Homo sapiens: one gene and its partner. The protein of the gene in region 1 interacts with the protein of each later gene in a pairwise test. Each region holds a gene or a part of one and is shown on either strand. Other genes may lie near its edges.

Evidence for each region. Proteins that work in one complex are often made in the same cells at the same time.
Region 2: the proteins of MYBPC2 (region 1) and TRIP11 interact in a two-hybrid assay, tested with the Homo sapiens proteins (one large-scale study listed by BioGRID and IntAct).

The regions. Positions count from the first base shown.
Region 1 is NC_000019.10:50,459,876-50,464,672, forward strand, and holds part of MYBPC2 (myosin-binding protein C, fast-type), read left to right. Parts: intron 1-164; coding exon 165-304; intron 305-1,666; coding exon 1,667-1,826; intron 1,827-2,024; coding exon 2,025-2,161; intron 2,162-4,470; coding exon 4,471-4,657; intron 4,658-4,797. UniProt on the Homo sapiens protein: Thick filament-associated protein located in the crossbridge region of vertebrate striated muscle a bands. In vitro it binds MHC, F-actin and native thin filaments, and modifies the activity of actin-activated myosin ATPase.
Region 2 is NC_000014.9:92,037,260-92,041,344, reverse strand, and holds the start of TRIP11 (thyroid receptor-interacting protein 11), read left to right. Parts: upstream 1-1,285; 5' UTR 1,286-1,659; coding exon 1,660-1,798; intron 1,799-4,085.

The DNA.
Region 1 (4,797 bases):
AAGAGGAAGTGGAGAGACTGGGATGGGGGAGGCCATAGGCAGGAATGGGAATGGGGCATAAGAGAGGTTAGAATCAGGAGGGAGGGGGTGTGGAGAGGGGAGGGGAGGGAAGCGGCTGGACATCCCAAAACCTGGACTGACTTGTCACACTTCCCCATTTCCAGAAAAGGCTGGGCCCCCCATAAACGTGATGGTGAAGGAGGTGTGGGGCACGAACGCGCTGGTGGAGTGGCAGGCCCCCAAAGATGATGGGAACAGTGAGATCATGGGGTATTTCGTCCAGAAAGCAGACAAAAAAACCATGGTGAGAGAGCAGAGGGGGAGATGGGGAAGAGCCGGTGAGGTGGGCAGAGCAGGTGCAGATGTCCCCCGTTCACAGCTGGAAGGGCAGGGAGGGGCCCAGAGGCTAGAGGACGGGCTGGGGCCAGGAGGGAAGCCTTTTAGCTGAGACTTGGCACGTGATGGGTTTTCATTTTCTTTTTTCACTGAGGTAAACGTCACATAACGGAATTAGTCATTCATCGTTTTAAAGCGAACAATTCAGCAGCACTTAGGACATCTGCAGGGTTGTGCAGCCACCGCCTCTACCCAGTCCATTTTCATCCCCCAGAGGAAGCCCTGTACCCAATAGCGCTACCCCCTGGTCTCCCCTGGCAGCCACCGATTTGCTTTCTGTCTCCCTGGATTTACCTACTCTGGACATTTCATACACATGGAATCCTAGCTATGTGACCCTTGTGTCTGACTTTGTTAGCTCAGCACAACGTCTTTGAAGTTCATCCATGCTGCAGGGTGCCGGGTGTGTCCATGCAGAAATCCTGTTTTTAGAATTCTTTTTTTTGAGACAGGGTCTTACTCTGTCACCCAGGCTGGAGTGCAGTGGTGCAATCTTGGCTCACTGCCTTCTCTGCCTCTGAGCTCAGGTGATTCCCCCCCATCTCAGCCTCCCATGTAGCTGGGAATACAGGCACGTGCCACCACATCCCGCTAATTTTTGTAGAGACAGGGTCTCAGTATGTTGTCCAGGCTGGTCTCGAACTCCTGGACCCAAGTCATCCTCCCACCTTGGCCTCCCAAAGTGTTGGGATTACAGGCATGAGCCACTGCACCTGGCCTTTATTTCTTTTAAATTTTTTTTTTTTTTTTGAGACAGGGTCTTACTCTGTCACCCAAGCTGGAATGCAGTGGCATGATCATGGCTCACTGCAGCCTCCAACCCGCAGGTTCAGGCAATCCTCCTCCCTCAGCCTCCCAAGTAGCTGGGACTACAGGTGCTGGCCACCAGACCTGGCTAATTTTTTGATTTTTTTAACAGACAAGGGTCTCGCCGGGTTGCCCACTCTGGTCTCAAACTCCCAGGCTCAAGCGAGCCTCCCACCTCGGCCTCCCAAAGAGCTGGGATTACAGGCATGAGCCACGGTGCCTGACCCCTTCTTAGCGTTGAATGATGTTCCTTTGTCTGGGCCGACTGTTTTGTTTGTCCATCCCTGCGCTGATGGGCGCTGGGTTGGTTCCACCTGTTGGCCACTGTGAGTAGTGCGCCATGAGTGACATTTTTTTAAACACTGGATGTGCTTTTCTCACCCCTTCTTTCGTCTGTGTCTTGTGTGTAATCGTGTGATCCTGTGGCCCCGACCCGCCTGGTCCCTCCCTGTCCCCACACTAGGAGTGGTTCAACGTCTATGAACGTAACAGGCACACTAGCTGTACTGTGTCCGACCTTATCGTGGGCAATGAATACTATTTCCGAGTTTACACCGAGAACATCTGTGGGCTCAGTGACTCACCTGGTGTCTCCAAGAACACGGCCCGCATCCTCAAGACAGGTACAGCCATCCTGCCCCACAGCCCAGGCCCACCCCGTCCACCCTCTCGCCCAGGTCCCACCTGGACTCCTGCCCTCCCCTCCCCACTGGGGTTGACGGCACCTAGTCATGGGAGAGAGGTGATTGCGGTTTGTTCCCTGGTTGGTGTCAGGGGAGAATCTAGATCAGTCGCCTTACGGGTGCATCCTCTCTCCCCAGGAATCACCTTCAAACCGTTCGAGTATAAGGAGCATGACTTCCGGATGGCTCCCAAGTTCCTGACACCTCTCATAGACCGCGTGGTCGTGGCTGGGTACTCGGCAGCCCTCAACTGTGCTGTCAGAGGCCACCCGAAGGTGCCAGGGCAGGGACCCAGATCTGCGTGTGTGTTGCCTTGTGGGGAATCTTCCATACAATGAAGCCCACTCCCCATCACGCCAGTTCTTCTTCCCCGAGTTCTCTGTCTCAAGGGATTTAGTCACTTAAAAAATTTTTTTAATTGATTTTTGATTTTTTTTTTTTTTGAGACAGGGTCTTGCTGTATCACCCAGGCTGGAGTGCAGTGGCACGATCACAGCTCACTGCAACTTTGACCTCCTGGGTTCAAGTGATCCTCCTACCTCATCCTCCCGAGTAGCTGGGACCACAGGCATGAACCACTGTGGCCAGCTAATTTTATAATTTGTAGAGATGGGGTCTTGCTATGTTGTCCAGGCTGGTCTTGAACTCCTAGGCTCAAGTGATTCTCCCGCCTCGGCCTCCCAAAGTGCTGGGATTACAGGTGTGAGCCACCACGCCCAGACTGGACTTGCTCACTTTTCACCCACTTCCTGTTAGCTCCTCTGACCAGAGCCCAAGTCTCAGACAATCAATCACATCTTGCCTTTGGCTTCCTGCCTTTTTCCTTCTTTCTTTCTTTTTTTTTCTTTCTTTCCTGAGACCAGGCTGGAGTGCAGTGGTGCGATCTTGGCTCACTGCAACCGCCTCCCAAGTTCAAGCGATTCTCCTGTCTCAGCCTCCTGAGTAGCTAGGATTACAGGCGTGCACCACCATGCCCAGCTAAATTTTGTATTTTTAGTAGAGACGGCGTTTTGCTGACCTCAGGTGATCCGCCTGCCTCAGCCTCCCAAAGTGCTGGGATTACAGGCATGAGCCACCGCTCCTGGCCTCTTGCCTTTTTCTTTGTCCCCTGACTGCCAGGTAACAGCTTGTCTCGGCAGCTTGAGGAGAGGACCATTAAGTCTCTCTTGCTCTGTCCAAGGACAAATGCCAGTCCCATGGAAAAAGAAACGTTGGGAGCAGGGGCAGCCTAGACCAGCACGGCTCCCCAGGGTCTTCCTGTCCAGCCATTTTCCAACTGCTCTTTGTGAACAGGGACACTTGCAACCTAGAGCTCATTTAGACCAGGGGTTGGCAAACCATCACCCATGGGTCAAATCCACCCACCACCTGTTTCTCTCAATAAAGTTTTATTGGAACACGGGCCAAGCATATTTGTTTATGTTTTGTTTACAGCTACTGCAGACAAAATGTAAATAAATGTGCGTGGCTCGCGTTCCAGGCCCAGAGACTACAGGGCCCAAAAAGCCTGAATTATTTACCATCTGGTCCTTTATAGGAACAGTTTGCCAGCTTCTGGTCTGGGCTGTAGGTTATTCGCTTCAGCCTCCTTAAGGCATACCATGTCTCCATCTCTGTATACTGTATTCACTAACTCCACTCATTCATGTCACTCATTCCACTCATTTATCCACCTACCAATCCATCCATTTACTCAGTTCATTCCTTCACTCCATTTGCTTATTTACAGCACTGTTTCGTGCTCTCATTCATTTATTCACTCCATTTATTCTTACAACAAACATTTTCAGAGGCTTTCAATGACCTGGGTGATTCGAACAAGAAATTTCCTGTATGTTGGGGGAGACTGACATTTGCCCAGAGTCACATAAATAATATAAAATTATGAAGGGCTGGGCCAGACACGGTGGCTCACACCTGTAATCCCAGCACTTTGGGAGGCCGAGGCGGGCAGATCACCTGAGGTCAGGAGTTTGAGACCAGCCTGGCCAACATGGTGAAACCCCATCTCTACTAAAAATACAAAAACTAGCCAGGCATGGTGGCAGGCGCCTCTAATCCCAACCACTTGGGAAGCTGAGGCAGGATAATTGCTTAAACCCGGGAGGTGGAGGTTACAGTGAGCCAAGATCACGCCACTGCACTCCAGCCTGGGAGACAAAGCGAGATTCTGTCTCAAAAAAAAAAAAAAAAGGGAAGGGCACTATGGAAGAGGGAACAGCCAGTGCCAGCGTCCTGAGGTGGGTGCCTGTCTGGTCTGTTTGAAGGACAGTGAGGTAGCCTGTTTGGCTGGAGCAGAGAAGTAATGGGGGTCAAAGAGTGTGGGACCCTGTGGGCCACTACAAACAGTGAGCTCTTTGTCCTGAGAGCAATGGGAAGACCCCACCGTTACCCTGTGAAGTGGGATTATCAACCTGCTTTTACATAAGAGGAGACTGAGGGTCAGGGAGAAGTGACTCGTCCAAGAACATCTGGCAAGAGGGTGGCAGAGCCTAGAACCCAGATCGGCTTCCTGAGCCCCATTTTGTCATCATTGCCCAGGGTCTCTCTCTAAGTTGGCCTCCTCTCCCTTGACTCTCAACAGCCGAAGGTGGTCTGGATGAAGAACAAGATGGAAATCCGTGAAGATCCCAAGTTCCTGATAACCAATTACCAAGGAGTCCTGACGCTGAACATCCGTCGCCCCTCGCCCTTCGACGCTGGGACTTACACCTGCCGGGCCGTCAACGAGCTGGGCGAGGCGCTGGCTGAGTGCAAGCTGGAGGTCCGAGGTGAGGGCGTGGCCATCCCCAACACTGGCTGACCCTTGCTCGGGCCCTGTGCCAGCCTGGCCGGTGGCCCCGGGCTGAGCACCGCTGAGATCTGGAGACGAGTGAGACCAGCCCTCTGGGAGGAGGACTGGGAAGCTGCT
Region 2 (4,085 bases), on another chromosome or scaffold:
GAAGAATGGGCGCCTGTAGTCCCAGCTACTTGGGAGCCTGAGGCAGGAGAATCGCTTTAACCCGGGAGACGAGGTTGCAGTGAGCCTAGGTCCCGCCATTGCACTCCAGCCTGGGCCACAGAGCGAGGCTCCATCTCAAAAAATAAAATTTAAAAAAAAAAAATTCAGCTTTCACGGAGAATTACTACTGCCTGGTGCCATCAGATCCCAAATACTGGAGGCATTCCCAATGTTCTGTTCACAAACTGTGCAATCTGTGATAGCCCCTCTTGTGAATATAATCAAAGTGAAAGATGCCAGTATACTTATTGCTATGCTTAAAAGAACTGCAGATCTATCATATCCTTTTGAAACCAAAAAATGTGGAAGTCTCCCTGGCTAGATGCTGTGTGTCCACGTATCCTGCACCAATTGCTTGAAAGTCACATGACAACCTTTCTTCCTTTAGGGAAGGAAGCAAGCAAGGTAGGACTCTGTGTGTTACAGCCAGTGTGGGTAACTAAGGACTGAGGGAGGTGTGGGCACTTGCATAGCTAGTGCCGCCAATACCATAGGAGCGTTGACACTAAACGGCACTTCTCTATTAAGTTGCCCTGCTGTCTTCTAACGAGTCATTTTGAAAAACGGTTGTCCGTTTTTCAACTACTTGGGTGAGGGCAGCTTCATGAAAAAAGCTCATCGTATGTTAAAGAAGGTAGGGTTTCAATTGTGAGCTATAAAGCCACCAGAGGAGATTTCTCCTATAGAAGGAAGGTGTGTTTCCTGCTTGGACACCTGAATTTGCAACCCATCCTTTCTTTTTTCCTTTTTCCTTTTTTTTTTTTGCAACCCATCCGTTCTATCTTTGTAGCCTCAGCTCCTACCATAGTGCCTGTCACGGAGCAGCTAATCGACACAGTGACGCGTGTAAGTTATTTGAAGCCACTTCCTGCGCAGTGGAACGTCCCCGCCAAGTCTCCCGGCACTGCTGGGTGTAGTCCCAATTAAAACACTAGGTTTCAACAACACAAGGAGGGTCCGCAGGGTCCCCGGACTACCCACCAAGGGTCGGCTCTGCTTTGAAACGCAGCTGCAGGAGGCCGAGGAGCGCCGCGATGCCCCAGTTATCCAGGCCATTCCTTCCCCGGCCGAAGCTGGCCGCCTGCATGCACCTAACCTTGCGCTAGGCACTGGCTGCGGTTAATCCAGCCCGCGCTCGGTCCTCCGCGATCCCAGCCTCCCTTGCGCCAAGGACACGTCCGGCGGCTTCGCGGGGCCTGTCTACGCCACCGCGGCGCTTTTCTATGATCCGCTGCCGCTTTCCGAGCGAGTGTCATGGCGGCCGGCGTCGAGTTGGCAGGAGTAACCCACGGAACTGAGGAAAGTCATTAGAGCTGAGAAAGAAGTGGCCCAATCTGGACGGTGGGAATTCGTGGGAATGAGCAGAAGGCCCTCCGTAGGTGACTGTGTCACTAGAGGCGGGCCCCTGGTAAAATTCCAGGCCAGGCCTCTGCGTTTCTAGGCAGAACCTGGAGTCGGCCTTGCCTGAGAACCCAGCTTTGTGTTATCGTATCCTGTCTCGCGAAGGCAGGCGTTCAAGGATATTTGGTCGGATCGCCCGGCGGCGCTAAACGTTTTCTTTTTTCCGAGCGGACCGGGTCGTTCTCTAAACTCGCCGCGATGTCGTCCTGGCTTGGGGGCCTCGGCTCCGGATTGGGCCAGTCTCTGGGTCAAGTCGGGGGCAGCCTGGCTTCCCTCACTGGCCAGATATCAAACTTTACAAAGGATATGCTGATGGAGGGCACGGAGGAAGTGGAAGGTAACAGCTGGAGCGAGGGAAGGGAGGGCTTTTCTAAGACCCTGGGAACGTCCGTTTGGTCCCTACTTCCATCAGTCAGGAGACGCGGACAGGTCGCAAAGGAATGCTGCTCCTCCCTTTTTTCTTCACACACCTCCTCTTGCCTCTTCTCAACAGATTTTCTATGATGAAAGACCACTGGGGGCCAGGGGAAGAGTCCTGGTTCTCCTCTCTTTAAATATTCTGGATATCTCAAAGTACAGTAGAGTGAAACTGCTCCTACGTTAAGTCGAGTTTATTTTCGTTTGGTTGATCCACGCCCACCACTTTGCCCTCAGTTTGGGGGCTGATCTCATTCTTAACATCTTCCTGTATTCTGACCCAGTTTAAAGAATTGTATATCTGTTTTCTATTTTTGTAACAGTTGAAATAACTCATAATTTAAACACTTGGTGAGTTTTGCTCTTTTCTGTCTTGAGTATGTTATGAAACACGGCCATGTTTTTCTATTTAATTATTTTTTACTTTTCCTTATTGTGATGATACATTATAGCGTTCCAGCTGAGAATGTATTTTTGTGTATAATCGCCCATTTCGCCCATATTTCGACAGTAGAATAGGGAAGACAACCCTATTCTTAAGGTACCCTTAGCAATCTTCACTCATTTTTGAAGTCCTCAATCTCGTTTTACTAATGAATAGTGACCCAGAGTTACATGGTAATCAATGGCTACATTAGTTACTATCCATTAATTACTATTTTGATTTCTTGGCATTTTAGTAAGCAATGTTTGGATCAAAACAGTTTTTAAGTTTCAATCTAAGTCTGCTCCAGGGAGATAATGGGCTGTTCTTTTGGGTGAGAGCTGCTGCTTTGACAATTGTATTTCTTATAAATAAATTTAATAAATTAGTATTCTGGCTTAGTTTTTTTTTTTAATTGCTAATTTAACAGATCCTTCATATTTATTTGGTAGAAATCGGGAAAGATTGTTTGATAGAAAGATAATGCTTATGTTTTGAATTTCTGTGGGGTCTATTTAGATGGAAGGAAGAATAGACTGGGGAGCTACCGAAATCCATTTTACCGCTTTACGTTCCCCATGCCATAAAGGTGCATCAGTGAGACAGCTTTGGGGATAGAAATGAAAGGGCTTCTTTATGTGTGGGGGAAAGCATGGGACCTTGAGGGCAGTCAGAAGCACAGAAGGGCTGGATAACTATGGGAAATGACTGGTCGCTCCTTGTATCCTAGATAGGGGAAAACGGTTGGCTGTTCCTTAGACCCTAAGCCAGAGAATATGCATCCCTCAACCTGGATGTCTTCCAGGTTTAAGGTGGTGTTCATTTTGTTCTCCTGCCAAATGTGCTGTTTTCTCATTCTTAATAGCTTCACTCTCAGTTTCCTAAACTGTAAATCTTCGTGTCCTTGTTTTATGTCTTTTTTCATCTCCTACTTCCAGTTGGTCATGATATCTTGTTTATCCTATGCCAGAATTGTCCTTTGCTTTATTACTCCTTATTCTTTAGATCCCTATAATCTTTCCCAGGGACTATTCCTCTTTCATGTCCTGTCACCCATTTCTCCCTACCCCAGTCCATTTTCTATTGTATTGTCAGTTACTTTCTAAAAACAAACCTGCGTAAAAATTTCTTGACCCTGTTACAGAATAAAATCCAAACCTCTTAGTTTTGGACTGAGTCTCACTCTGTTGCGTAGGCTGGATGCAGTGGCGCGATCTCGGCTCGCTGCAACCTTCGCCTCCCGGGTTCAAGCAATTCTCCTGCCTCAGCCTCCCAAGTAGCTGGGATTACAGGCGTGTGCCACCACACCTGGCTAATTTTTGTATTTTTAGTAGAGATGGGGTTTCGCCATGTTGGCCAGGCTGATCTCGAACTCCTGAGACCGCAGGTGATCCTCCTGCCTTGGCCTCCCAGAGTGCTGGGATTACAGGCGTGAGCCACCGCACCCGACCTTCAATGTACCTTTTCTAGTTGCCATACCAGTTGCTGTACATGTGCACATATATATGCTTGCTTGTACGCACAGCTTCTGTCGTGTGGGATTTTGTCAGGCACTTACACAACTTCAAGCCTCTACATGGAAAGCCCTTTCTTCTCTATTTCCTCCTTCACCCAGAAAACAATTCTCCTGTACAACCCTGCTCATATGTCAGGTACTTAAGTACTTGGTGAACCATTCTGACTCCCACACAGGTTGAGTTGTTGAGTTGAATGTTGGTGATCTGTGTTCTAACAGAACTTTGTGGATCTCTCCCTGACAGCATTTAACATGTTGAGTTATAAT